Linked DNA regions of Homo sapiens: all the other regions are linked to region 1. Evidence: fine-mapped expression QTL. A gene starts in region 1. Each other region holds a variant in brackets. All regions are shown on one strand. Distances are from middle to middle.

Region 1 (5,000 bases):
GATCGTGCCACTGCAGTCCAGCCTGGGCGACAGAGCGAGACTGCGTCTAAAAGAAAGAGAAAAAGGAAAAGAAAAAGTAAAGTGGCAAGGGGTGGAGGTGTCAGTGGCTGTAGCTGGTGGAGAGCCCTGATGCTCACAGTCAAGCAGGACTTGGGAATAATGCAGCCGAGCAGGGCGTGGATCTCGAGGACACAGTGGCCAGGTAGTGGAATAATGCGTGGCACATGCTATACTAACTGTAACAGGTGGACAACGTCAGTTATCATTATTGCCTCCAAAGTGCCCTGGGTACTCCCAGGGTCTTAGAAGGGAGGGTTCCAAGCCTACAGAGAGCCACAAGGGGTCTCACACTGTTCACACACACACAAAACCACAGAGGGTCTCAGCTGTACACAGAGAGGCCTAGGCACCACTCAATACTGTCACAAAGGAATACACAAGGGAATGTTCACACAAAGATGGAATCAAATTAAGTTACAGCCACACTCACAGAGCCCCAGACACACAACAATGTCACAAATGTAACTTACATTGGCACACAGAGCTAAATGAGAGTTTCAAGCCAGGCGCGATGGCTTAAGCCTGTAATCCCAGCACTTTGGGAGGCCGAGGTGGGTGGATCACCTGAGGTCAGGAGTTCGAGATCAGCCTGGCCAACATGGTGAAACCCCATCTCTACTAAAAATACAAAACTTAGCCAGGCGTGGTGGCACACGCCTGTAATCCCAGCTACTCAGGAGGCTGAGGCAGGAGAATTGCTTGAACCCAGCAGGAGGAGGTTGCAGTGGGCCGAGATCGTGCCACTGCACTCTAGCCTGGGCGACAGAGCCAGACTCTATTTCAAAAGAAAAAAAAAAAAAGAAGAGCGTTTCAGAGCTAAATTACAGGCATATGCAGGCACAGAGGGTCATGGTAGAACCCAGAGCCCCAGGCACACTTGTACACACACCACTAAGTCACAATGGGACGCACACTGGTAACTTACAGCAACGCTTGGAGCTACAGATAGAATTAATGGTAAAACACACACAGCCCAAGAAGGATCAGAGCTGCTACACACGGTAACTCCAGACACATGTACAAACACTCCAACGTCACACTCAGACACACAGGGGTAATTTATATTTGCACAGGGAGCTACAGATGGAATGAGACACAACACGCACACAACCAGCTGCTCACAGCCACAGATTTGGAGCCCCAGACACACACAGGTAACTTACAGTGACACACAGAGCCGCGGTCAGAATTAGTGGTTAAGTTACACGCAGGAACTCTATCAGAGGCCCAAAGCTGCTGCAGGCTAGCAGCCCCAGACACACGTACACACACTTGCAAGACAATTCACAGTCGGAAGCACATGCGCCCACCTGGACCGGAAGGGGAGTAAGAAGTCAATTCCGAGCACACAGGACCCCCCGCCCTCCATGACCTCAAGCACGCGGTCCTGGAGAGACGCAGGAAGCCCCCACCCCCGGCAGCCCCGAGACCCGCAACAGCCAAGGACGGTGGGAGGGGGCCCAGGCAGGAGGGGGCTGCCTACTCCCGGCGCGCCCAGGGCTCCGCGGCCTGTGGGCCTGGGCTGGTCCCGATCCTGTCTCCATCCCAGGCCGGAGCCCCAGTTCGGCCTCGCGCTCACCCCTGGCTTACCAGGCAGGGGGTTGCCAGGCCTGAGGGCCCTCCCCGCCAGATGAACCCGCGGGCCCCCAGCCAAACCCCGCAACCCAGTGCGTCGCGGGCCGGCAGTGGCGACCCAGACCCCGGGCCCTGCCCTGCGTCCGCGCCCCACTCCCCAGCTGCACCCCTCGCCCGGGGGCCCCCTGCCCCGCCCCCACCCCGATCGCCCCGGCCAGAGCCATGTGCAGAGGCCCCCGACCTCTGCAGCGGCCGCTCCGCCCCCTCCCCAAGCCCGCGGCGCCCCCTCCCTCCGGTGGCCTCCCCCGCGCGCCCGGTCCCTGAGCTCTAGTCGCCCGGTCCTTACTCGAACATGGATGCGGCGCGGTGGGCGCGCCCCGGGCGCAGGGCAGGGCAGGGCAGGGCAGGGCTGGGCTGCGCGGGGCTGGGCTGCGCTGGGCGTCCCCGCAGGGCACCGGCCTGGCCTTCCGCGGCCGCCGCCCCCACCCGACCCAACCGCCCGCACAAAAGGCCGGAGCCGCCGGAGGCCGCCGCGGCGTCAGCGACACCCCCTTCCTTCCCCCGCCCCGCCGCGTCACGGCGCCGCCCCCAGCCCGGGAGGGAAGGCGGGGAGGGGCCGCAGAGGCCTAGAAGGAGGGAGAAGCCGGGGAGAGAGGGACTGGACAGAGAAGGGAAAGCAGAGGGGCAGAGAGACAGAGAAGGAAACAAAGAGACTTTATTAAAACCAAACATCGTGGAGGCAGCTGCCTGCCCGCAGGTTGGGGAGCCCCCTCCCCTAGTACCTAGAAAAGGGTCCCTAGCAACTACTATGCCCCTGGCCAGAAGCTCCTGGACCTCCCAGGGAGGAACCTGAGAGCCGGGGCGAAGGTGGGGGAGGACTGGAGATGCTGGGAAACCGAGGTGTATGTATGGGGGAGGGGGCCTGAAGCTGGCGGGAAGGGGTGGGGCCGGTTGGCCGCCTCCTCCTTCCCTCTCCCAGTCTCTGAGCCCGGGTTCCTGGTCCCAGGAGGTCCGGTGCCTCCGTTTCTAGGGACTTCCCAGTTTTGGTCAGCCAGGCCAAGTACCAAGTCAGAATCCAGCCTCCCTGGCTCTTATCTGTGCTGAGACCTTGCGCTCATCACCCCAGTGCTGGGAGTCCCACTAACTCGGTGGTAAGGGCTTTTCCCGGGGACAGCGCAGGAACGGGCAAAATCAGTCCTTTTACGGAAGGAGAAGCCCGGCCTCTAAGATGGGAAGTGACTTGTTGGGGTCACCTGGTAGGTAGGCGGCAGAGTTGGATTCGATCCTGCTCTGACGCCATAACCTGCGTCCCCCCTCCCCCGCCCCGTCTGCAAGAGGTCAGAGTCAGGTGGTGTCCTGGACTCCTGGCCCAACCACACAGAAATGCGAGTCCCACCTCACAGCTCCGGGGCTGTGGCTCCCCAGCGCTCTCCAGGGTACGCTGTCCCCGCCTCTTTTGAAAAAACTCCCTTCCCAACCCTCTCCATCAACCCTTCCCCTCCTCCTGCAAAAGAAGCCCACCTGACTTCTCCATTTTGATGAATGGCAGGCCCAGAACTTCAGAGTCTTTTCTGACCCTCTCTTTTCCTTCACACCACATCCAATCCGTCACAAACTGTGGGCTCCACGTATAAAATCAATCGCTCCATTCTAAACTCTTCTTCCTCCGCTGCCCACGCCCTGGCCCAGCCTCCATCCTCTCCTGCCTGATCTCCCTGCTCCCATCCCTGCCCCTACTGTCTGTTCTCACCTGCAGCCAGAGAGAGCCTGGGACCACCTGAGTCAGTTAACTACCCTCCTGGCTCAGAGCCCTGCCCCAGCTGTACCTCACTCCAGGTAAAAGCAAAGTCCTCACCTTGGCACCCAAGGCCCCTGTCAGCTCTCTGACTTCAGCTCCTCATCTCCCCCTGGCTCACACCCCCCATCCAGCCTACCCGCTGTTCTTCTAACTCACCAGGCACCTTCCTGCCTCCTACCCCAAGACCTTTGCACTGGTTATTCCCTCTGCATGGACAGCACCCCCCCTATCGCCGTGCCCTACCTCTCATGCTAACCCCCACCTCTAAAACCCCCATCCACCATCTGACATTTGCTGCCTCCCACCGGCCAATGGAAGAGAGGCCCTCCTCCCACCACCTTCCTCTGTCCAACTGATCTCTTTAGATTTCTCTTTGGTCTGTTTCTTCTAGTGTAATGCTTTTAGTTTTTTAATTAAATAATATTTATTTCAGGTCAGGCGCGTTGGGTCACGCCTGTAATCCCAGCACTTTGGGAGGCCAAGGAGGGTGGATCACCTATCAGGAGTTCGAGACCAGCCTGGCCAACAGAGTGAAACCCCATCTCTATCAAAAATACAAAAAAATTAGCCAGGTGTAGTGGCTTGCACCTGTAATCCCAGCTACCCAGGAAGCTGAGGCAGGAGAATTGCTTGAACCCGGGAGGTGGAAGTTGCAGTGAGCCAGGATCGCACCACTGCGCTCCAGCCTGGACAACAGAGCAAGACTCCATCTCAAAAAAAAAAAAAAAAAAAAAAAGGAAGAAAATATAACAGTCCTCTATGTCCCCTGTACCTATATAGAATAGATGTGGACATTTTGCCATTTTGCTTCAGGTCCTTTTTTTAAAAGAAATAAATGATTACACTTACAACCAAAGGCCTGGCTCCCCATCCCTCCTTTCCCTTCCCGTGCCCCCCAAGGAGCCTTCTGCCTGCCATGCAGTTGGTGTGTTTCCTTCCTGCGCTTTTTTTTTTTTTTTTTTTTGAGACAAGGTCTTGCTCTGTCGCTCAGGCTGGAGTGGTGCAGTGGCTCGATCTTGGCTCACTGCAGCCTCCACCTCCTCGGTTCAAGCGATTCTCTTGCCCCAACTTCCTGAATAGCTGGGATTACAGGCATGCGCCACCATGCCTGGCTAATTTTTGTATTTTTAGTAGAGATGGGGTTTCACTGTGTTGGTCAGGATGGTCTTGAACTCCTGATCTCAGGTTAATCTGCCCGCCTCGGCCTCCCAAAGTGCTGGGATTACAGGCATGAGCCAGCACGCCTGGACCCTGTGTACTTTTCTGTCCTTTTTCTACATCAGGAGGCATCCACCAACACTATCACCTATTATCCAGTATCTTTTTAAAAAGATACACGATTAGGCTCCCTCTGTTTCATTTGCAACTTGCTGTCCCCCATTATCATTGTTTCTGCGATTTCTCCACATCCATGCACAAAGCTCTGCTTCCTAAACTTTAACGCTTATGGAGTGTCCCTTGTTGGAAGAAACCACAGTGGCTGCTTGTTCTATTCAGGGTCGGTAGAGTTCTTTCCTCTTCCCCCTATGGCCCTGAACCTCCCATTTCCTGTCTCCTTGTACCAGAG
Region 2 (8,171 bases), 52 kb after region 1:
TGTTGCCAGGCTGGAGTGCAGTGGCACGATCTTAGCTCACTGCAACCTCTGCCTCCCAGGTTCAAGCAATTCTCCTGCCTCAGCCTCCTGAGTAGCTGGGATTACAGGTGTGCACCACCACACCTGGCTAATTTTTGTATCTTTAGTAGAGACAGGGTTTCACCAAGTTGGTCAGGCTGGTCTCGAACTCCTGACCTCATGATCTGCCTGCTTTGGCCTTCCAAAGTGCTGGGATTACAGGCATGAGCCACCGCGCCTGGCCAGTTGTTCTTAAGTTTCTTAAGTTATAAAGTTTTTCTTAAGTTTTTTTAAGTTGTAAAGTTAGATTTTTGATTTGAGATCTTTCTTCTGTTTTAATATAATCTTTATAGCTATAAATTTCCTACTTAGGCACTGCTTTTGTTGTATCCTACAAGTTTTTGTATATTGTTTTCCTTTTCTTTCATCTCTATTTTATAATTTCCTTTGTGATTTCTTTGATATAATGATTATTTAAGAGTGTCATTTGCTCTCTGCAAATTTGTGAATTTTCAAGTTTTCCTAACCTCTTGTGATCAGGGAAGATATTTTATATGATATATATCTTTTAAAATCTATTGACCCTTAATTTATGGCCTGACATGGTCTATTTTGGAGAATATCCCATGTGCAAGTGTATTCTATTGTTATCGTGTATTCTATATATTTTCTGTTAGATCTAATTGGCTTATTGTATTGTTCAAGTGCTCTATTTCCTTATTGGTCTTCTGATTGTTTTATTTATTATTGAGAATGGGTTATTGAAGTCTCTAACTATTGTTGTAGAACTGTCTATTTCTTCTGTTAATTCTGTGTATTTTTCCTTCATATATTCTGATGGTCTGTTATTAGGTATATAAATGCTTATAATTGTTATATGTCCTTGCTGTCTTGAATCTTTTCTTAATATGTAACGTCTCTCTTTGTCTCATGGAACCACATTTTGATTTAAGGTCTATTTTGTTTGATACCAGTATGTCCATCCCTGCTTTCTTTTGGTTACTATTTGCATGGAATATCTTTTTCCATTCTTTTACTTTCAATCTATTTCTGTCTTTGGATCTAAAGTGAAACTTTGTAGACAGCATATAGTTGGATTATCGGTGTTTTTTTTGTTGTTGTTGTTTGTTTTTTAACTCATTTTGCCAGTTTCTGTGTTTTGCTCTGAGGATTTAATCCAGTTATATTTAAAGTAATTACTGATAAGGAGGGACTTACTTCTGTCATTCTGCTATTTATTTTCTATGTGATTTTAGCTTTTTTGTCCCTTATTTCCTATATTACTCTCTTTTTGTGTGTTTGATTTTTCAAATGTGAAACATTTTAATTTCATTCTTGTTTCATTTTGTGTATATTCCATAACTATTTTCTTTGTGGTTACCATGGAGATTACATTTCACATCCTAGATTTGTAATACTCTGATTTGAACTTTTACCAGCTTACCGTTAATAACACAGAAAAACTCTGATCTTATACAACTCCATCCCCAACACTTGTAGATAGTAATGTCACAAAATTACCTCTTTATACATTGTGTGTCCAAAAACATAGATTAATAATTTTTTAACACATTCGTCTCTTAAATCACATAAAAAACAAAAAGTGGAGTACAAACCAAAGTTACAATAATATGAACTTTAAAATTTTCCCAGGTATTTGCCTTTACTAGAGATCCTTATTTCTTCTCATGGCACTGAGTTACTGTCCAGTGTCCTTTCATTTCAACTGGAAGGACTCCCTTTAGCATTTCTTGCACAGCAGTTCTCTTGGTAACGCATTCCCTCAATTGGGAATGTCTTCATTTCTCCCTCAGTTTTGGTGGATAGTTTTGCCAGATTTAGGAGTCTTGGTTGTCCGTTCTTTTCTTTTAGCACTTTGAACATGTCAGCCCACTGCCTTCTGCCTTCTGTCTTCTGCCCTCTAAGGTTTCTGATGAGAAATCTGATAATCTTAGTGAGTATCCCTTGAATGTAATGAGTCACTTCTTTTTTGCTGCTTTCAGTATTCTCTTTATGTCTCTGTCTTTTGACAGTTTGATTATAATGTGCCTCAGCGTGAGTCTCTTTGAATTCATCCTTCTTGGAGCTCATTGAGCTTCTTGGGTGTTTATATTTATGTCTTTTTACATCTGTATAGTGTGTTAAAATAAAAAAAAAGTCTTTCATCAAATTTGGGTAGTTTTGGCCATTTCTTAAAAATAGTCCCTCTTCCTCCTTGTTTCTCTCTTTCCTCTGGAACTCCCACCTTTTCTTCTATTAGCTGCATGTTGGTTTTTGTCTGTTACAAATTGAGCTACTGTAATCATTAGTGTGTAGGTCTTTGTGTGGGAATATTCTTTCTCTTCTCTTGTGTTATTATCTAAAAGTGCAATGCCTTTGTTGCAGGGTAGGTGAATATTTTACATTTTAAGAAACTGCCAAATTGTGTTCTAAAGTTATTATACCATTTTACATCCCCTGCCTCCCTGATTGTGAGCAAGAGTTCCAGTTTCGTCACATAATCACCAACAATTGCTATGATCTGTGTTTTTAATGTTTATAATGCTACTAGGGATGGAGTAATAGTATCTTATTGTAGTTTTAACTTGCATTTCTCTAAGGCTTCATGATTTTGAGCATATTTTAAATCATGTTTTTATTTGCCACCCATATAACTTCTATGGTAAAATGTCTACTGATATCTCTTGCCTATTTTAAAAGTAAATATTAGTTGATATTGAAATAGTAAAGAAATTTTTTGGAACTGCAGTCATTTATTAATAATGCCAGTGACTTATTTGTTTTGTAGGGTAATTTTGAATATTGGAAGAATATTTCCTCAAAATTTTGTGCTGTTCACAATGGGAAACTAGAGACATGAAACACTTTTAAGTTTAATCTGAATTATTAACATATTCTCTGCTTTCTTAAGTCTACCTGGTCAATAAAACAACAGATCAAGTTCTGGTTTGTAGTGTTTACCAATACCCTAGGTGTAAATACTTCTGTCTTGGCCAATTTCAAGCTACAACATGATGTCTCTGAATATGGAGTTGGGAAGATATGTGCAATAGCACGCCATTGTATTCTGTTTCCACTGAATAGATGCAATAAACGTAAATAACCTCTAAAGCATAGATAATAGTAAAATAATTAGGAAATGAGGATTTTTTTAAGTATTTTTTTTTCTTTTTAGAAAAACAGCTTTATTGAAGTCTAAACTACACATATTTCACAGGTACAAGTTTTGGTACATGTTTATAGCCATGAAATTAAAGGTTTTCTTGGGCTCTTTGTAATCTCTTCCTCCTTATCCACCTACC[C/T]GTCTTTAGGAAACCACTGATCTGCTTTCTGTCACTCTACATTTGTTTACATATTTTAGAATATTACATTAATCTGGAAGCAGCTTAGGTAGGTCAAGGTTGAGAATCCCCCATGAAATTGCAGTTAAGCTGTCTCTGGAGCTACAGTCTCAGGAAACTTGCTGGAGGCTGGAAGATTCAATTCTAATCTCTTTTCCATGGCAGTTGACAGGAAGCTTTAGTTCCTTGCCACATGGATCTCTCCATAGGGATGCTCGTCACAGGGATTCTTTCAAACAGAGAAAGTGATCCAAGAGCAGGAGAGTCTACCCAAGAAGGAGACCAGTGTCTTCAATAACCTAAAATTGGAAGTTACATGTTCTCATGTTTTCTGTTTTATACGGGCTTTACAGATCAACCCTTGTAAAATGTGTGAGGGGTACCCAAGGGTAAGAATTCCAGGAAGTAGAGATTTGGGGTTCTTTTTAGAGTTTACCTGCTACAATCACGTTTTACCTTGTTTTAAAGTCTTTTTTTTTTTTTTTTTTTTTTTTTTTTTTTTTTTTTTGAGACAGAGTTTCAGTCTTGTTGCCCAGGCTGGAGTGCAACGGCACGGTCTTGGCTCACCGCAACCTCCGCCTCCCAGGTTCAAGTGATTCTCCTGCCTCAGCCTCCTGAGTAGCTGGGATTACAGGCATCCGCCACCACGCCTGGCTAATTTTGTATTTTTAGTAGAGATGGGGTTTCTCCATGTTAGTCAGGCTGGTCTCAAACTCCCGACCTCAAGTGATCCGCTTGCCTCAGCCTCCCAAAGTGCTGGGATTACAGGCGTGAGCCACTGGGGCACCTGGCCTTAAAGTCTTTTAATGGTAAATTGCATTGATTTTCAAATATCAAGTGAACTTTTATATTTTGAGGGTAAATCTACATTTTCTTGATGTGTTATCCTTTTTTTGTATTGTTGGGTTTGATTTGCCAAAATTTTGTTGAAGTTTCTATACCTATGTTCATGAAGGATATTGATCTGCGGTTTTCTTGTAATGCCTTTGTGTGGTTTTGGTATCACTATAATAGCTTCACCAATTAAGTTGGAAAGCATTCCTTATGCTTCCACTTTTTTGGAAGAGTTTCTGCATTCTTAGGTTTTCTTCCCTAAATGTTTGGTAGAATATACCACTGAAGCCATTTAAGCCACAGTTTGCTTTGTAGGAAGGTTTCTAATTACAAATCTGATTTTAAAAATAAATATAGGGATATACATTTTTATTTTTCTTAAGTGAACTTTAGTGGTTTGTGTCTTCAAAGAGAGTTTGTTCATTTTATTTTATTTCCCAGATTTATTGGCATAAATGGGTTCATGATTTTCCTTTCAATATCTGTAGAATCTGTCATGTCTCTCATTCCCAATCTGGGTAATTTATGTGCTTCTTTGTAACTTGATAATCCTTGGCTAGAGGTTTATCAGTTGTATTGTTCTTAAGGCTTTTGGTTTCACTGATTTTCTTCACAGTTCATTCTGTTTATTTCATTGACTTCCATTTTAATCTTTATTATATACTCTCTTCTGCTCATTTTGCATTTCTCTTCGTTAGTTTTTTAATGTGGAAACTGATACTCTTATTTTTGGATATTTTTTCTTTTGTTTAATGGGTTTACCTAGGGTAAACCTAGCCTTCAGTTCTGACAATTTTCTCCTGTATTTTCTTCTGAACATTTTGTACTTTTATATTTTATATTTTAGTCTGTGATCCATTTTGAGTGAATTTGTGTTTAAAGTATGGGATTAAGTTGATGTTCACATCTTTTGTCTATGGACGTTCAATTGCTCCAGCATTATTTGCTGAAAAGCCTTATCTGCCTTCATTTATTTGCTTTTACTTGTTTTTCAAAAATCAGTTGGTTATATTTCTTTGCACGTTTCTGGGTTATCTATTCTGTTCTTTAGACCTATGTTGTTTATCCCTCCCCAGTACCACAGTGTCTTGTATCCTTAGCTATATAATAACCCATAACATCAGACAGGGTGATTCCCCCCAGCAGTCTTTAAAATGTGTCCACATTGACATCGACAGACACATTTGTTAGCGCCCTAAGAGATCCCTTCACTGTCAAGGCTTTGGCAACCTCTTCTCATGTGTCCTTGAGTCTCTAGACCACCTCTGATGGCCAGAAGTTTCCCAAGGGCTTCTGATACAAGAAACTGCCCTTCTCAAAATCATGCTATGCCTCCATTAAAACAAACTGACTAGCTACATACTAGGCTCTTCTAGAAATAGAGACTTTCACAGACCTAATACTTAGCTGCCCATTTGTTTTGAGTCAAGAAACAGCAACCTACAAACTTGGCATGGCTACCGAGGCCTCCTTAATACAGGATAGAGCCAAATCTGGGCCCTCTGGCGTATTCCATCTACAGGAGAGGTGGTCTCCTTTGTCCTCAGTCTCTTGCCACATGCCATGGTACTGGAAGAAGTCACCCCCTCTCCTAGACTGGTTGGCTACCTGGGGAGACCCTTGGGATTAACTAAGTAAACAGCAATAGCAGTTTGCAGACTGTATGAACGACACTGCCAACCATCATAAATATTGATTTTTTGTGTGTTGTTTTTTAAATTAGTGGAATCTTGCTACTTTGCATCTTAGACAGGATGTCCCCAGCAGTCAACACAATTGGCCAAACTTCAGGCAGTCATCTTAGCACTGGATGACCTGGTCAACAAATGGCCTCATCTTCACATTTATTGCAAACTATTGGGCCATTGCCTAAGAGTTGTGCACTTCAGAGTAAAAACTCTAGCAATCTCCTACCTTACAGATACCTAAAATATAAACGTAAATCACACATGTCTCTAGATATACTATGGCCACAATACAAGGCCAAATAACTCCTTATTTCCTTCAGTGTTAGATATTACTGATAATAACAAAGGCATACATTTCCCTTCCCAGAATACACAATTCTGGGTTCTCGGTAAAGCTATCCAATGGAACTCTCATGTCCCTGATAGGTGCCAGATAGCCAATTTATTCTATTTTACTTGTTATTTTTTTGTGGAGACAGAGTCTCTTTACATTGCCCAGGCTGATCTCGAGCTCCTGGGCTCAAGTGAACCTCCCACCTCAGCCTCCCGACCTCCCATTTGAACTGTGCCCAGCTCAGATGCCCAGTTTAATTGAGGTCTCAATTTTTCTCTTTTTCTTTGAGACAGAGTCTAGCTCTGTCACCAGGCTGAAGTGCAGTGGCATGATCTTGGCTCACTGCAAGCTCCACCTCCCAGGTTTATGCCTTTCTCCTGTCTCAGCCTCCTGAGTAGCTGGGACTACAGGTGCCCGCCACCACACCCAGCTATTTTTTTTTGTATTTTTAGTGGAGATGGGGGTTTCACCGTGTTAGCCAGGATGGTCTTGATCTCCTGACCTCGTGATCCGCCTGCCTCAGCCTCCCAAAGTGCTGGGATTACAGGCTTCAGCCACCAAGCCTGGCTTTTTTTTTTTTTTTTTAATAAGAATGTAGGTTCTATTATCACCATTTTAAAACAATGCTGTAAGGTGATAAGTGTAGTGCCTAATATCTAACTGGCTGCAAGGCAGTGGAATAACAATGATGATAGTTAACGTGAGTGCCATGGCTAAAGGCTTTCATTACATTGTTAACTGGTTTTAAAAAATAATGAATTATTTGAAGTTCAGCAGTGGTTTAGGAGGTCCAAGGTTTTTTATTCACTTGTTCATACAATCACATTAGAATAAATGCATCATATAAAAGTTCATGCTGTCAGTGCTGTAACCATTAAGTAATAACGTTTCCCACTTTTTCTGAATGGTCCACCAGTATAAATATTGGTATTACAAACCTATAAATGACAAAGGAATATTCTTATGTTTTCTGAGTTATATTATGAATTATAAGATGAGAATAGACCTGCCAATATTCTTCACATTTGAAAGTTTCCTACCAGCATAAATTCCCCGATGTTCAACAATGTTTGAGCCACACACGAAGCACTTCCCACACTCCTCAGACTCTTAGGGTATAACACTCATATGTTTTCTCAGATGCACTTTAAGGGCTGAACTGTATCTAAAGGTCTTCCCACATTTTTTGCATTTAAAGGGTTTCTCACCAGTGTGTACCCGCTGATGTTCAGTAAGGAATGAATTAAGTCTAAAGGCCTTCCCGCATTCCTTACATTCAAAAGGTTTCTCACCAGTGTGAACACTCTGATGTCCAATAAGTTGTCCATAAACAGTAAAGGCTTTCCCACATTTGTTACATTCATAGGGTTTCTCCCCAGTATGAATTCTTTGATGCTGAACAAGGTATGAGCCAGAACTGAAGGCCTTGCCACACTCCTTACACTCATAGGGCTTCTTACCAGTATGGATTCTGCTATGTTGTACAAGGTACGAGGCTCGACTAAAAGTCTTTCCACATTCCTTACATTCATAGGGCTTTACATCAGTATGAATTTTCCGATGCTGTGTGAGATGTACGTGCACTCTGAAGGCCTTGCCACATTCCTTACACTCATAGGGTTTCTCTCCAGTATGAACCCTTTGATGTACGGTAAGCTGATGGCGACTAATAAAGGCTTTGCCACATTCCTTACATTCATAGGGTTTCTCCCCAGTATGGATCCTCTGATGCTGAACAAGGTATGAGCCAGTACTAAAGGCCTTGCCACACTCCTTACATTCATAGGGCTTCTCGCCAGTGTGAAGTCTTCCATGTTGAACAAGATATGAGGCACGACTGAAGGTTCTCCCGCATTCCTTGCATCCGTAGGGCTTTATCTCTGCATGAATTCGCTGATGTGCATGAAGGAAGGAACTAAGTCTAAAGGCCTTTCCACATTCCTTACATTCAAAAGG
Region 3 (8,171 bases), 20 kb after region 1:
TGGATTACATATATGAAAACAAAATTAGACTTTCTACTGATTTCTCAATAGCAAAAATGGGAACGAGAAGACAATGGAACAATAGCTTTGATGTGCTGGGAGAAAACACATGTCCATCTAGAACTGCAGGCCCAAGAATCATTCAAGGATGAAGATGAACTGAATACACTTTCAGAGAAAAACTGAAATATTTTGTATGAACATATCCCCCTAAAGGAAATTCTTAAAAAATTAGGTCAGAAGAAAGAAAAGCAATATCAGAGGGAAAATATGAGCTGTAAGATGGAATAACAAGCAATGAAAATGATAAATGTGTGGGTAAATCTAAACGGACAGTGATTGTTTTAGTCCATTTTTTGTTGGTATAACAGAATATACCACTATAAATTACAGACTGGGTAATTTATAGTGAACAGAAATTTATTTAGCTCATGGTTCTGGAGGCTGAAAAGTCCAATACCGAGTGGGTGGCATCTGGTTGGCTTCGGGGGAGGGGCTAGTGCTGCATCATAACATGATGGAAAAGCAGAAGAGAAGCAGGTGTGTGTCAAAGGGGCAAAACTTAAGGGGAACCTCACTTTATAACAGCCTGCCCTTGCAATAACCAATCCAGTCCCAAAAGAGTGAGAACTCACTGCCTCCAGAATTAACCCAGTCTCGAGAGAATGGCATCAGTCTCTCTTAATGACCAAATCACCTCTTAAAAGTCCCGTCACCCAACACCACCACACTGGGGACCAAAGTGGGAGGATCTCTTAAGACCAGGAGTTTGAGATCAGCCTGGGCAACATAGTGAAACCCTATCTCTATTAAAAAATTAACAGGGCATGGTGGTACAAGTGGTACAAGCCTGCAGTCCTAGCTACTTGGGAGGCTGAGGCAGGAGGATTGCTTGAGCCCCGGAGTTTGAGGCTGCAGTGGGCTATGATAGTGCCACTGCACTCCAGCCTGAGTGACAGAGCGAGAATTTGTCTCTTTTTTTTTTTTTTTTTTTGAGATGGAGTCTCTCTGTGACGCCCAGGCTGGAGTGCAGTGGCTCAATCTCGGCTCACTGCAAGCTCCGCCTCCCGGGTTCACGCCATTCTCCTGCCTCAGCCTTCCGAGTAGCTGGGACCACAGGTGCCCACCACCACGCCTGGCTAATTTTTTGTATTTTTAGTAGAGAAGGGGTTTCACCGCGTTAGCCAGGATGGTCTCGATCTCCTGACCTTGTGATCCGCCCGCCTCGGCCTCCCAAAGTGCTGGGATTACAGGCATGAGCCACCGTGCCCAGCCGCTGAGAATTTGTCTCTAAAAAACAATGACAAACTAAAAGGAAAACTTCTGGAAAGCAGAATAAAAGACAAAAGTGGATAATAAGAGACAATATAAGAAAATTAGAGGATAAATTCAGAAATTCCAAAAAAGAGAAAACAGAAACTCCAGTAGTGAAGAAAGTATTAAAGAAATGTCCCCATAACTGAAAGAAATTTGAAGAGCCTGCAGAGTGCTCCACAATTGTTAAAATATGGTAATAATATTTCAGAACATCAGTTCTAGAGGTTTCCAGAGAGAGAAAAAAAAAAAGCCAAACAGATCACAGTCAAAGGATCACAGGTGGGAGGACATTGGACACTCTGGGGAAAAACTGCTGTTTAACCTGGACTTCTATCAAATTATCACTCAAGTGGAAACAGGGTTAGACATTTTCAGACAAACAAAGTCTCAAAAAGTTTCCTCCCAAACAGTCTTTCTCAGGAAGCTCCTGGAAGATATTTTCACCCTAAACAAGGGAGTAAACCAGGAAAGAGAAAATGGAGGACCAACATGACTAGATGGTGAAGTGAAGTCCCAGCAGGAGAATCATGCAGCTGGCTTGAAGAAAGTATAGATTGGAGCAGAAGGACAGAGATTGGAGTTTAAATTATTCAAAGCAGAGAAAAGGACAAATCTCAACTACAGTTGTAAAGAAAAGCAAAAAGTTTGCATGAGAAAGAAATGTAAGGACAGCGCACGACATAGCTCATCTCTAACATTTTCCTGATCTCCATAACATAATCAGTGAACTTAATAAAAATCATGACATGACAATTCTGGGAGGATTGAAGGGGGGGGAAGGAAATATGTGTGTGGGAGAGGAGTGAAAAGAGCGAATTCATCATCTTCTAGTAAAAAGTAAGTTGATAATATATAACATTCAAATTCAAGACTGTATATAAACCTGCTATTTATAAACGTGGAGCCGGGCACAGTGGCTCATGCCTGCAATTCCAGCACTTTGGGAGGCTGAGATGGGCGGATCACTTGAGGTCAGGAGTTCGAGACCAGCCTGGCCAACACGGTGAAACCCTGTCTCTACTAAAAATACAAAAATTAGCCTGGTGTGGCGGTGCATGCCTGTAATCCCAGTTACTTGAGAGGCTGAGGCTGGAGAATTGCTTGAACCCGGGCGGCAGAGGTTGCAGTGAGCGGAGATGGCACTGCTGCACTACAGCCTGGGCAACAGAGTGAAATTCCAACTCAAAAAAAAAAAAAAAAGGAGATGAAAATAGAACTATGCACTAAAAGAGAGAGTGGCTAATTCTGGAGAGGGGGATGGGGTGGGACGGCATGGAGTAGAGAAGAGAGCTGCTGGGTTTAGAAATCTTGTTGAATTCTTTGACTTTTGCTATTGTGCATTTATATGACTGATTAGAATTAAAATTTTAAAAGTTTGCAACTGGTAGAGCCAAGAATTTTGAGTTTAAGAATCCCAAACTGATGGAAATACTTATAATACACACAAAAATTTTTGTTTACGGATGGCCTAGGCAGTATAGTTTGCAATGAGGACAAAGAAAAAAAATGCGTTGTGTTTGATATTTACAGGATATTATTAATGGGACATTATAATTAATTGTTTTATTTTCCCCACTGCTGACATGCCTGTGTGAATTTGCTAAGCTAGTGGTTTGATGACTTATTTGTAATGCACTTTTAGAGCATCGTAAACACCTAATAAACACATGTGGAATACAGGTGTTTCAAAACGATAAGTAACAAAAAAGAGACACATTTTATTGTATATAAACTATCCTTCAATAATACTGATTAAAATGCAAAAGAGATATTAGAATATGCAAATTATTCAGCAACATAAAGCAATAATAGAAGAGCCAAAAGACGAAAATGATTGATTATGGGATGTGGATGCAAGGTAGAGGACAGTTATTTATTTATATGTCTTTTATTGTTTGTTTGTTTATTTATTTATTTTTTGTGACAGGGTCTTGCTCTGTCACCCAGGCTGGAGTGCAATGATGCCATCCCAGCTCACTGCAGCCTTGGTCTTCCATGCCCAAGCCATCCTCCCACCCCAGCCTCTTGAGTAGCTGGGACTACAGGCACATGCCACCATGCCTGGCTAATTTTTGTATTGTTTGTAGGCATGGAGTCTCACCATCTTGCCCAGGCTGGTCTCAAAACCCTGGGTTCATTCCGTCTGCCTGCCGGTCTCCCAAAGTGCTGGAATTACAGATGGGAGCCACTGGACCCAGCCATGTCTTTTAATGCTGCATGATATTTAAATGTTAAATATGTATATTTTAGCACTACTTCATATATACTCATTACATAAGGTAAGTACAGTTATAAAGTAAATAAAGGCTGGGCGCAGTGGCTCATGCTGTAATCCTAGCACTTTGGGAGGCTGGTCAGGAGATCAAGACCAGCCTGGCCAACATGGGGAAACCCCATCTCTACTAAAAATACAAAAATTAGCTGGGCAGGGTGGCACATGCCTAGCTACTCGGGTGGCTGAGGCAGGAGAATCACTTGAACCTGGGAGGCGGAGCTTGCAATGAGCCGAGATGGCGCCACTGCACTCCAGCCTGGGCAACAGAGTGAGACTTCATCTCAAAAAAAAAAAAAGTAAATACGGCACATAGATGTGTTATGCATAATATATATATGTATGTATGTATGTATGTATGTACGCTGGGTCTAGAATTTGAAAGGCACCTGAAAATATAATGCTTAATTTTTCAAACACTTATTTTGTGATTAGAACGAAGACAATGCATAGTGGATGACGTTACTGCCTTTCTATTCTATCACTATCTATGCACCATGTCCAAAAGGTCATGAACTGCCACTGGGTGAAGGCAGATCTCGGAGTCTGTTTGTTATATGCAGGGACTCAATGACACTCACTGGCTGCAGTACACCCGTGAGGTAGGAGGTGGGCTCAACTCCAGAGGTGAGGCTCAGACACCTGACCAAACTGAGAACTAGCTAAAACAGGGACGGGAGGGAAGCAGTTTTCCATAAGACACACCCACCAGTGCGCCATGTCAGTTTACCATTGCCATGGCAACACCGGAGAGTCACCACCCCTTTCCATGGCAATGATATAATGACCCCAAAGCTACTACCCCTTCCCTAGAAATGTCTGCATAAACTGCCCCTTAATCTACGTGCAATTAAATGTGAGCATAAATCTGACTGCAGAACTGCTCTGAGCTGCTGCTGTCTGCCTACGGGACCGGGTAGTCCTGCTCTGCAGGAGCAGTCATGGAGCTGTAACACGGCTTCTTCAATGAGCCTCTTTTCTTCTACCCTACCACTGGCCCATACTGCTCACCCTTGAATTCTTTCTTGAGCAAAGCCAAGAACCCTCACATGCTAAGCCCCAGTTTGGGGGTCACCTGTCCTGAATCAAGTTGGGAGAACTTGAAGATTCCTCCAGAAAGAAATATGTAAACTGGATGGTGCTCTCCTCATCATGCTGAGAGCTCTCTCTCCCCTGGTGCTCGGCTCCTGGCCACCTCTGCCTCCAGCCAGACTAGGTGCTCCTAGTCAGACCTGATCCTCAGCAATTTTGACCAAAGATGACTCTTGGTACTGAAAGGCCACCAGGGTCTGCTCTTCCACACACCTAAAGTTGAGGCAGTGATAGGGGAATGCAACTGGGAGTGAGGTCCCATTGTCAGGGTCCTTTCCAACCTCCTCATCTTGGCATC[G/A]AAGGGTTCCGTGTTGACCCTACCCTAGCTAAACACCCAGCCAAATATCCCCCTGCTCTTCAGGGTGCTCCCTCAGCTCCACTCACTCTGTCTCTCACACACCACCAGAAGGTACCCCTTAAAACCTGTGCGATCCACCTTCCTGCAATGCTCTTCCTTCCTCTACAAATCCACCCGCTTTCCAAAGTCCAGTTTCAGGCCCTTGTCTTTCTTCCTGGAACAAAGTGCTCATTTGAGGTTTTGAACAGCTGGAGCACTTCTGCTTCATGCAGACCTTTGGTGCACCTAGCGAACATCAACTGTGTTTTAACACCCAGTTTAGCAGCAACTTCCATTGTAAATACTTCAGCAATAATTCTCTCCAAGAATTCTTTCTCTCCTTGGTTCCCAATGAGATAGGTTTTTTCCATTATAGTAATTAACGCTTTGAATCATAATAAAGTGTTTACCACCATTTGGAATCTCCTGGTAGAATAAGAGTTCCCCAGGGAAAAGTACTTGGAATTAATCACATAGCATTGATGCCATAAAAGCTTGCTGAATTAAGACATTCCTTTGTATGGCTTGGCATTGTGGCTCACGCCTGTAATCCCAGCACTTTGGGAGGCTGAGACGGGAGGCTCACTTGAGGCCAGGAGTTCAAGACCAGCCTGGGCAACATAGCAAGACCCCGTCACTAGCAAAAAAGAAAAGAAAAAAAATTAGCCGGACATAGTGGAGGGCACCTGTGGTCTCAGCTAATGGGGAAGCTGAGGCGGGATGATCGCTTGAGCTCAATAGGTCGAGTTTATGGTGAGCTATGAGTGCCACTATATAGTGAGTGCCACTGCACTCCAGTCTGGGAAGCAGAATGAGACCCTGTCTCAAAACAACAACAACAATAACAACAAATGCTCCTGTATTTTTCTCTCACTCTCCTATTCATCCTTCAGCACCCAGTCTAACCACCACCTCCTCTAGAAAGCCTTTCTGATTGCCTAGAGCAAGGTGGGTTCTTCCATCATATCTGATGGCATCTGGCTTCTTTATATGGATTATGAAAGTCACCATTTACCTGGGCAATTATTTGTTAAGCGCCCTTCTCTTTCCCTCCACTGTGCAAACCATCGGGACAAGGGCAGGCTGTGACCTTGTCATAAGATTTCCAGTGTACCAGCCCAATGTTTGGCACAAGGCTGGTGCTCAGTGAATTGCTTGTGACATGGAAGAATTAAAGTGTGACTCTTACATACCCAATGACACTTTGCTTCCCAGAACTAAATGTATTAGCACAGAATAAATTTATTTTTTTATTATGAAAAATTTAAACATTCTCAAAAGTAGAGAGAAAAGCATAATGAGCTGCCACGTGTCCATCATCCAGCTTTGACAATTACCAATATTCTTGCCAATCTTCTGATGCAGTTTTTTTAAATCAACTTATTGAGGTATAATTTACACACACAATGTACTCATTTTGAGTGTATACTTCAATGGCTTCTAGCAAATGTGTGCATTCATAGTCCCCAAAAGTTTCCCTGTGGCACAGAATTGGGTGATTTTTTGTTTTTTTGAGATAAGATCTTGCTCTGTCACCCAGAGTGGAGTGCAGTGGTTTGATCATAACTCACTGCAGCCTCCACCTCCTGGGCTCAAGCGATCCTCCCGCCTTGGCCTCCCAAAATGCTGGCATTACAGGTATGAGCCACTGCATCCAGCCTGGCACGAAGTTTTGTGAATACAAATCCTTTTTTTTTTTTTTTTTTTTTTTTGAGACAGAGTTTTGCTCTTGTTGCCCAGGTCGGAGTGCAATGGCATGATCTCGGCTCACTGCAACATCTGCCCCCCGGGTTCAAGCGATTCTCTGCCTCAGCCTTCCAAGTTGCTGGGATTACAGGTGCCCGCCACGATGCCCGGCTAATTTTTTGGATTTTTAGTACAGACGGGGTTTCGCCATGTTGGCCAGGCTGATCTCGAACTCCTGACCTCAGGTGATCCACCAGCCTCGGCCTCCCCGAAGTGCTGGGATTACAGGCGTGAGCCACTGTGCCAGGCTGTGAATACAAATTCTTAATAAATGTTTGTTACTTTGTTCACGTGTGATCCAAGATGAGTTGAAGGAAGGGGCTTGGGCCTTGAAGAAGTAGGAGAGTTTAAAGACTCTGGGGGCCACGTGAAGGGAAAGATTTGGGCTCTTACAGCCTCTTCATTTCCCTGAGACCCAACCCCAAATTGGCCCCAACTTATTCAGTCAGAATATTCTTTATCAACACCATCATGAAAGTTTCTTCCCTTGTAACCTGAGAATGGAAAAGCCAAGTTTCCATTTCCTTCATGGTGGGATGCAGTCCATGAAGCTCTCCAGCCTGTGACCCCTTTCTAAGCCTTCCCATTGCCAATCAAATGCCCACTAGGGGTAGCCTCTTCCTCTACCATCACCTGCCCCTCATAAGGTCCTAAGTATGGACCCAGAGCCCATACACAAGGCCTACTCCACTGTGGACTGCAGACCCTGGTTCTCAAGTCCAAGGGGCAGAAGGGGCTGAGCTGGAACCATGCCCCTTGGCCACAGAACCAACCTGGATGAGCCCTGCAGACCCTGGGAGCCAGCTCTCAGGGAAGAAAGTGGAGGAGGGTGGGAGTACAGCAATGGGGAGAAGGGCAGGGGGAGCTGGCCAGTGCAGGGTGGGCCTGGGGTATGGAGCCTCAGAGCATTCTGATGAAGCAGTGTTATAGGACCAACAGGCTCACACATCCACTGTGCAGTGACAGACCATTCCACTGAGACAGCAGGGTTGGCAGCAGAGAAAGAGTTTCATGATCACAGGGCGCCAAGTGAGGACATGAGAGGAAACCCTCAAATCCATCTCCCCAAGGAGTTCTGGGCTGGCGATTTTAAGGGGATCATGGAAGGACGAGGAGCTGGAGAATTGGGGTGGTTGATTGCTTGGGGTTAGGGGGATGAAATCAGGGTGTGAAAACTGCATTCTTTAGTGAGTCAGCAGCTCCTGTGGGTTCCTTCAGACCAAATGGCATCAGTGGTTTCATCAGTATACAGAACCTGAAAAAATATCTCAAATGGAAAACTTAACATTTCTTTTGTTTGTTTGTTTGTTTGTTTGAGGCAGTTTTGCTCTTGGCATCTAGGCTGGAGTGCAGTGGCACCATCTTGGCTCACTGCAACCTCTGCCTCCTGGGTTCAAGCGATTCTCC
Region 4 (8,171 bases), 26 kb before region 1:
AGCAGCCCCGGGAATCTGGAGGTGCTGTTTCAGGAGGAGGACCCCTTCGTGATCCCCTGCACCCATTTATGTCCCTGATGTCACCTTCTACCCCTCTTTCCTCCCACTCCACTCTGGCTGTTCAGGCCCTCCTGCTGTTCCCAACACAGGGAACCCGTTCCTGCCTCAGGGCCTTGGCCCCAGCTCTCCCCTCTGCCCCGGCTCTCCCCCCCTGCCCCGCCCCTCTCCGTGGGCCTCCATGGCTCCAATGTCACCTTCGTCAGGTCTTCTGTGTCCCTTCAGGGTAAACTGCCTTCCCCGCTCCTAACCTGACCTCCTTTACTCTTTACCTCTTGTTGAGTGTTTTCCACAGCAGCCTCACTACCTGACATTATGTTCTTTTTTTTTTTTTTTTTTTTTTTTTTTTTTTGAGATAGGGTCTGGCTCTGTTGCCCAGGCTGGAGTGCAGTGGCTGATCTCGTCTCACTGCAACCTCCGCCTCCCGGGTTCAAGCGATTATCCTGCCGCAACCTCCCAAGTAGCTGGGAGTACAGGTGTGCACCATCATGCCTGGCTAATTTTTTTATTTTTTAGTAGAGACAGGGTTTCACCATGTTGACCATGCTGGGATTACAGATGTGAGCCGCCCCCCGCTATCCCAGCACTTTGGGAGGCCAAGGGGGGCAGATCACCTGAGGACAGGAGTTCGAGACCAGCCTGACGAGCATGGTGAAACCCCGTCTCTACTAACAATACAAAAAAAATTAGCTGGGAGTGGTGGTGGGCACCTGTAATCCCAGTTACTTGGGAGGCTGAGGAAGAATCGCTTGAACCCGGGAGGCAGAGGTTGCAGTGAGCCAAGATCGCATCACTGCACTCCAGCCTGGGCAACAAGAGCGAAACTCCGTCTCAAAAAAAAAGGCCGGGCGCAGTGGCTCACGCTTGTAATTCCAGCATTCTGGGAGGCCGAGGTGGGCGGATCACGAGGTCAAGAGATCGAGACCATCCTGGCCAACATGGTGAAACCCCATCTCTACTAAAAATACAAAAATTAGCTGGGCGTGGGGGCACATGCCTGTAGTCCCAGCTACTCAGGAGGCTGAGGCAGGAGAATCGCTTGAACCCGGGAGGCAGAGGTGGCAATGAGCCGAGATCACACCACTGCACTCCAGCCTGGTGACAGAGTGAGACTCCATGTAAAAAAAAAAAAAAAAAAAAAAAAAAAAAATCTCCCAGGTGAGGATATTGTCTTGTGTCTCTTGCACCTTGAACTGTTCCTGGCACATTGTAGGTACTCAATCAATATTTGTCAAACAAATAAATGAATGCCAATGTTCACTAAGTCCTTGGGATTTGCAGAACCCACTTCTACTGCCCCAAACCTTCAGCAAGTTCTATTATCCCCATTTTACAGATGAAGAAACTGAGGCTGGGAGAGGGCCGTGCCCCTGCCCAGAGTCATGTAGCTGGCCTAGGATGGATGTGGAATCCTGCCCCAGCAGTGGTGAGTGGCCTGTCCTACCAGTAGGTTCTGCCAAATTGAGAGAATGGAGATGGGAGTTCTGGGCTGTCAGGACCAGGGTGGGAGTGAGACTCTCGGCTGAAGGGTCACTACCCAGATCCTAGCCTCCAATTCCGGGTGGGGTAAGGTCTCAGAATCCCCCTGGCCCAGCCCTGCCAGGCAAGAGGAGCCAGGGTGTGGGGCAGGACCATGGCAGAGGGGCAGGGAGCCAGGGACATCCGACACCTCTGTGGTCTAGACTTTTACGCCAGCACCTTCTGAGCTGTGAAATTCCCCTGCAGAGAATAACCCTCTTGCTGTTCCGGGCCCTTCCACTGGTGGGGGATGGTAGGTGAAGGCACAGTGAGGACAGGCCTCAGCACTGGACAGGAGGCACCTCACGGCCCTATAAGCTATGTTCAGTGAGCACCTACTATGTATGGGCTTGGTGCTGTTCTAAGCATTCTAAGCACTTTACTAACATTAGCTCATTTAATTTTTCCTATAGGTGGTATTATTATTACACCCATATTACAGATATAGAAGACTGAGGCTCAGCATGGGTACCTTGCCATGATCACACAACTAGAGGATAGGAGAGGCTGGCTCTGCCTCCTATGCCACTCCTGATCCACTCTCCAAACCCTCCTCCAGTCCCCTGCTCCAAGCCATCAGTTAGGATGATTCTTATAGCCGGGGGTGTGACATGCCAAAGGTGTCTCTACCCCACATACTCCCTCTGGAACCAGGACAAGGTTTGCGTGAGGTGGACCTGGGTTCTTTCTGGACCAGGGACTTTGCCTCCAAGCTCATTTCCTCATCTGTAAAACAGGAATCCAACCAACGTCAGCCTGAATGGGCTGTGGTGGGGTCCTGAGGGGGTTAGGACCTTGCATGTAAATGTGGAGACCCCAGGGGTCAGGCCTGGAGTCTGCCTCCCTGCTGGGTAGCCTCGGGCGTGTACATCTTTGTCTCCACCTCATGGAATCACTGTGAGAATAAAATGAACATCAGATCTTGGCACAGAGCTGGGTACGTACGTACTTGGTACTCACTACGCGAGTTACTTTTTTCCCTCTATTTTTATGCAATAAGTGTAACATTTATTGAATACTTACTCCATTCCATCTGTGCCGGGCCCTGTTATAAGTAGCCACATTTATGAACTCCTTGAACCTATAATAGTGGTTCTCAAAGTGTGGTCTGGGGCTGGGCGTGGTGGCTCACGCCTGAAATCTCAACACTTTGGGAAGCTGAGGCGGGAGGATCGCTTGAGGCCAGGAGTTCAAGACTGGCCTGGGCAACACAGTGAGATCCCATCTCCAAAAAGAAATAAAAAATTAGCCGGGCGTGGTGGCTTACACCTGTAGTCCAAGCTACTCAGAAGGCTGAGGTGGGAGGATGGCTTGAGCACAGGAGGTCGAAGCTGCTGTGAGCCATGTTTGTGCCACTGCACTCCAGCCTGGGCGACAGAGACCCTAACTTAAAACAAACAAACAAAAAACCAAAGTGTCGTCTGGGATGGCACCATGAGCAACTCCTGGGAACTCGTTATAAAGGCAGAATCCCAGCCCTGCCCCAGACCTACTGAACCAGAAATTTGGAGGGAGGGGCCCACAGTCTGTTTTTCATCAAGCTCTCCAGGAGATTCGAATGCAGCTCAAGTTTGAGAACCACTGCCTTCTAACAACCCTGAGAGACAGCTACTGCCATTCTACCCATTGCACAGGAAAGCTCACTGGAGCTCCAGGGGGCTGACCTGCTGCATTTACACCACTGCTAGGAAGCAGGATTTGAACTCCAGCTACCACGGTCTGTCCCCGGAGTTCCTGCGTTGACCTCAGATGATGTAAAGCTTGTGTAAGATGCTGCGGGAATTCCAGATCGTTTCAGTGACTATGGCCCCAGAACACAGACAGAGGTCCCCTCCCCACCATGGCAGGATCTGAGTGCAACAGGAGGCTCCCACCCACTCCCAGGGCCCCACAGGCACAGCCACAGCCACTTCTGACCCTTTATTGGGGCACTGTCGGCCCCAAATAAATATAATACATTAAACCCAGAGCTGAGGGAATCGTGCACCCCAGGAGGCGCCCCCCACAACCTCAGCCGGGCAAAATAAGTTAGTGGGGGGCCTGCCAGAGGCCGGGCCAGCTCCCTGGTCTAAAGTGCATCTCGGTTCCGTGG[T/GGATTCCGTGGT]CCCCACGTCTGCACAGCCCCTGGTTGGGCCGTCGGGAGGGGCGGGTGGGAGATGCCTGGCGCTCACACCGTGCCAGCAGTGGCCGCCGAGGCTCTGTGTGTCCATCTGTCCATGTGGGGGAACAGCTGCGTGGCCGGGGTCCTCAGGAAAAGCTGTCATCGGGCCGGGGCTGGGTGTCAAAGGGAGGGTCTGAGACTGTGATGCCTTGGTGCAGCTTCTCCAGCGAGAACTTCATCTGCGGGGAGGAGGTGAGCAGGGTCGGGGGTGAACGCTGGAGGCTGGGGGGTGATGTCGCCCACCCCCACCTTGCCATTGAGAAACTGAGGACGGTCTAGAGGCCATACTGCCCCACCCCAGGGTCCCTTGGTGAAAAGAGCACAGCCATGCTGCACCCAGTTTAACTTCTCAGAGGCAGCAGAGGAAGGGGCTTAGTGTGTGCCTGTGACCCCGATGGCCTAGGTTCAAATCCTGGCTCTGCTGCTTGTTACCTCAGTTAACCTCAGGCAAGTCCCGTAACCACCCTGAGCCAAAATCCCCTCATTTGAAATACGGGTCTATAACACATCTGCTCCACAGGATTATTTCAGGGTTCTGAAGAGCACTGAGAACCTGGTGTACACTAAGTGCTCAGCACATGTTAGCTGTCACCATTACCCACTCTGTGACCTCGGGCAAGCTCCTGAGCTCCTCGAACCTCTGGATGCCTCATATCGCCTACCTATGTATAAAACCGGGATAACGGCCGGGCACAGTGCCTCATGCGTGTAATCTCAGCACTTTGGGAGGCTGAGACCGGTGGATCACTTAAGGTCAGGAGTTCAAGACCAGCCTGGCCAACATGGTGAAAGCCCGTCTCTACTAAAAATACAAAAATTAGCCAGGCGTGGTGGCGGGTGCCTGTAATCCCAGCTACCTGGGAAGCTGAGGCACGAGAATCGCTTTAACCTGGAAGGCAGAGGTCGCACCACTGCACGCCAGCCTGGGTGACAGATCGAGACTGTCTCAAAAAAACTGGGATAACAAGAGCATCTTCTCAAAGGCTGGCTGTGGGGATAAAGCAGTCATGCTTAAAACCTAGAACAGCCCAGCTGCAGGTAAGTGCTCAGTCTACATCTACTGTGAGCACCAATCTGTGACGTCAACTCTGCACCCTTAGCAGTTTGACAGAGAGGAAAATGATAAAAATTTAACTCAGGGCCAGGCGTGGTGGATCACACCTGCAATCCCAGGACTTTGGGAGGCCGAGGCGGGAGGATTGCCTGAGGCCAGGAGTTTGAGACCAGCCTGGGCAACATGGTGAGACTCTGGTCTCTACAAAAAATTTTAAAATTGGCCAGGTGTGGTGGTGCCTGCCTATAGTCCCAGCTACTCAGGATGCTGAGGCAGGAGGATCACTTGAGTCAGGAGTTCGAGGCAGCGATGAGCCATGATCGTGCCACTGCACTCCAGCCTGGGCAACAGAATGAGATCCTGTCTCAAAAGAATAAAATAAAATAACGCAGGATGGGGGGCCCTGCCTACCCTCTCTATGAGTGATGGGGCCTCAGCCTTCATCTCCTCCCCACCCCATCCTGCCCCGCCCTTTCCAGTGTGAGCCTCTCCCAAGCTTGATTTCGGGGGGCAATGAGACCCCTAAAGATGAGCCTTCTGATATGGAAGGGTCCAATGAGACAAGATTTTCACCGTCACCCACAACTTCAGCTCTGATGGCCTTGGAAATGCAGGCAATGCCAGACTCTGTTTCCCATCCGCTTTCCCCCTCGACACCTTCCCCGAGTGCCTAACACTTGCTCTGACCCACCACAACTGCTGGCCTGACACTTGCTCTGACCCACCGCAACTGCTGGCCTGACACTTGCTCTGACCCACCGCAACTGCTGGCCTGAGTCTACTGGGGCCTGAGGGAATTGTCGTGTGATGACATCACATTTATTGGGCATCTGCTTTGTCCCTGGCACTAGGCTCAAACTCAGGACAGCCAGCCCACATCCAGTGTTTCCTGCAGGCCTGGCACCACTCCCAATGTCAACTTGTCTCATCCTCACAACAGTCTTTGAGGTAGCATCAGTCATTATCCTGTGCACAGAGGAGTCCACGGCCACCATGGCAAAATCACTTGCACGAGGTCACACACCGGAATTGGAACCTGGTTGTCTGAGTAGACATTGTCCCTGAACTACACTGGGTGTCTGGGTCCACTCCGTTTTGGAGATGAGACCTCAGGTCCTTTGGAGAGTCTCTCCCCTTCAGACCATGTGACCCCTTAGTTACCCCAGAGTGGGGTAGCGGGTAGAGGGACCACACGTGGCCTGCCCTGGCTGTTGTGATGTGTCAGGGGTAGGCCTGGGACCCCAGCAGCCAATGAGAGTAAGCTCCGTGGTCCCCTGTGGGGGGAAAAGGGTGGCCTCCAATGAAGCCAACCCTGGAGATGGGCACAGGGCAGAGTGGGCACGAGAGACTGACTCTTACTGCCATTGAGTGACCAAACCCGGCCGTGCCTAATGTGAGACGCCTCTGGACTTTTCTCCAGGACGTGAGCCAATCAGTTCTGTCTTCCATCCATGCTTCCATGCTTTCCCCTGCAATGCTGTGGGGTGGGGACTCTGAGCGGCTTCCTCATTTTACAGAGGAGGACACTGAGATCCGGAGAGGGGAAGTGCCTGCCGCACGGTGGGGTTTCAACACAGGACCCTGCAGCCCCGCAGCCCCGAGCCCTGCCCGAGCGGCGCCTCCTACCTCATCCAGGAGCTCCACGGAGGCCCGCAGGATCTGCCTCCACTTGTGCACCTCCACGCTGTGGAATTGCTTCTGCAGCGCCAGGATCTCGGCCCACTCTGTGGCCGTCTGGGGGAACTTGCTGTGGGGATGCCAGGCCTGAGCAGGGCCTTGGCCTCCCCCGATGTGCCCAAGCCCCCCCATTTCCCCAGGCTACCCACTCACCCCTTGGCCAGGGCCAGGCTGTGCCAGGACTCAAAGGTGTGGGCTGTCCTTTCCAGGGACCAGAGGCGGTAGAAGAGCAGGACGTTGAGGGCGATGAGGATGATAAGGCTGGGGACAGGGGTCAGAGGTCAGGATTCCTGGGGTCTAGATGCTCTGAACACCCCCAAACAACTACATCTTGTAGGGACACCTCTATCCCCCATTGCAGAGGAGGAGAATTAGGCTCAGAGAGGATGAGAGACATGCCTAGGGTTGCACAGTCCATAGCAGGGAAGTCAGTGTTCAAACCCAGGTCTGTCTGATGCCCATACCCTTGACTGCCATGCCAGGCCACCTCCCTGGGGGAGCTGGGGGGCATGGGGTGGGGAGAAGAGGCTGCAGCAGGGGTGGGGTGCAGGGAGGGGAGGGCAGGGGGAGGACTCGGGACCCTACCTCACACAGATCCTGCAGCAGCAGCAGTGAGGGGAGACAGAGAGATGAGCGCCGCCTGGCCTGCCCCCGACACCCCCAGCCCTCCTCACCCGGGGCAGCTCTTGGCTGAGAGCACCACGCCCCCTCACTGGATGAGAGCTGAGAGCTGAGGCTCAGAGGCTGAGCATGTAGCTGGCCTGACCCTCACCTCGCAGGGTCTGCTCAACCCCGGGATCCTGCTTCTGTTTCCTCCCAGCGTCCTGCCCGCCAACTCCTGCAGGCTTCTGGGCAGGAGTGTGGGTTCTCCCTGCCCAAGCCCTTAGCCTACGCGGTCTCCACTCTCTCAGGACGCCCATCCTGACTGCCCCCTCTGGCCTGGGAGGAAGCCGCCGCTGGCCTCCCAGGGCTTCCCCACTCCCAGCCCCAACCCCTCTGCCCATACCTCCCCCATCCCAGCCCGGATCACTCTGGTCTGGTGTGAGGTCTATCTTTTCCTCAAGGTCACTGCGGTGTCCTCAGCATCGCCCAGCTTAGGAGTGGGCACAGAGAACATAATGTCCATAAATGACCTCACTTGTTAGGCACACCTCTCCCTGTGCACCTAATTCCAGAATCTTTGTGTGCCTGCTCCTCCAGAAAGCCCCCCTTGATCCTTGGGTGAGGTCAGGCCCCTCTGATCTCCCATAGCCCCCCCCGGCTCTGCTGTTCTAGCAGGGAAGGCTTCTCCATGACAAACCGGCACATCCCAAACATTGCCTTGTCTAATCCTTGCTGTGAGCAAACCCACGCTCCCACTTAAGCAGAGAGCTCAAAGAGGCCACACACTTGCCCAAGGTCACACAGCCAGGAGGCAGGTTCAGGCCTGTGTGGCCACTGCTCCTGTCTCTTACTCACACAATGCTGATGAGAACCAGGGCACTGGGGATGCCTGCCCCGGGGCCCTGGTCCACAGATGGTTCGGAGAAGCGGGAGCTGAGGGAGCCTGCAGGAGAGCAGCTTGGAGTCAGATGGCCCAGTCCAGGACCCCCGATCCTCCGCCTACCCCAACCCGGCCCCAACGGAACGTACCCGAGGTGTGAATGCCGGCCCGGGCACAGGGGTCAGGATCTGGGTGCTGGGGCCCGTCCCCGTGAGCCCGCCAGCTCAGGGGCC

What was found.
Region 2: its variant is fine-mapped to the expression of GRAMD1A in whole blood (TOPMed, PIP above 0.99).
Region 3: its variant is fine-mapped to the expression of GRAMD1A in whole blood (TOPMed, PIP above 0.99).
Region 4: its variant is fine-mapped to the expression of GRAMD1A in whole blood (INTERVAL, PIP above 0.99).

Annotation. Positions count from the first base shown.
Region 1 is chr19:34,997,468-35,002,467 of GRCh38, reverse strand. It overlaps GRAMD1A (GRAM domain containing 1A), which reads right to left and starts at 2,145. Exons shown (of 20, transcript NM_020895.5): 1 at 1,982-2,145. The coding sequence starts at 1,989. RefSeq lists silencers at 1,531-1,660, 1,931-2,310 and an enhancer at 4,085-4,760.
Region 2 is chr19:34,943,993-34,952,163 of GRCh38, reverse strand. It overlaps ZNF30 (zinc finger protein 30), which reads right to left. Exons shown (of 5, transcript NM_194325.3): 5 at 6,996-8,171. The coding sequence ends at 7,326. Among named protein-coding and RNA genes, the nearest start is that of ZNF792, 16 kb to the left of the region's middle. The variant C/T (reference allele first, on the strand shown) is at 3,321.
Region 3 is chr19:34,976,373-34,984,543 of GRCh38, reverse strand. No RefSeq gene overlaps it. Among named protein-coding and RNA genes, the nearest start is that of ZNF792, 16 kb to the right of the region's middle. The variant G/A (reference allele first, on the strand shown) is at 4,980.
Region 4 is chr19:35,021,781-35,029,951 of GRCh38, reverse strand. GRAMD1A (GRAM domain containing 1A) reads right to left here. Exons shown (of 20, transcript NM_020895.5): 15 at 8,088-8,171; 16 at 7,914-8,001; 17 at 7,041-7,052; 18 at 6,609-6,716; 19 at 6,405-6,525; 20 at 3,483-3,903. The coding sequence ends at 3,811. Among named protein-coding and RNA genes, the nearest start is that of SCN1B, 4.6 kb to the left of the region's middle. The variant T/GGATTCCGTGGT (reference allele first, on the strand shown) is at 3,668.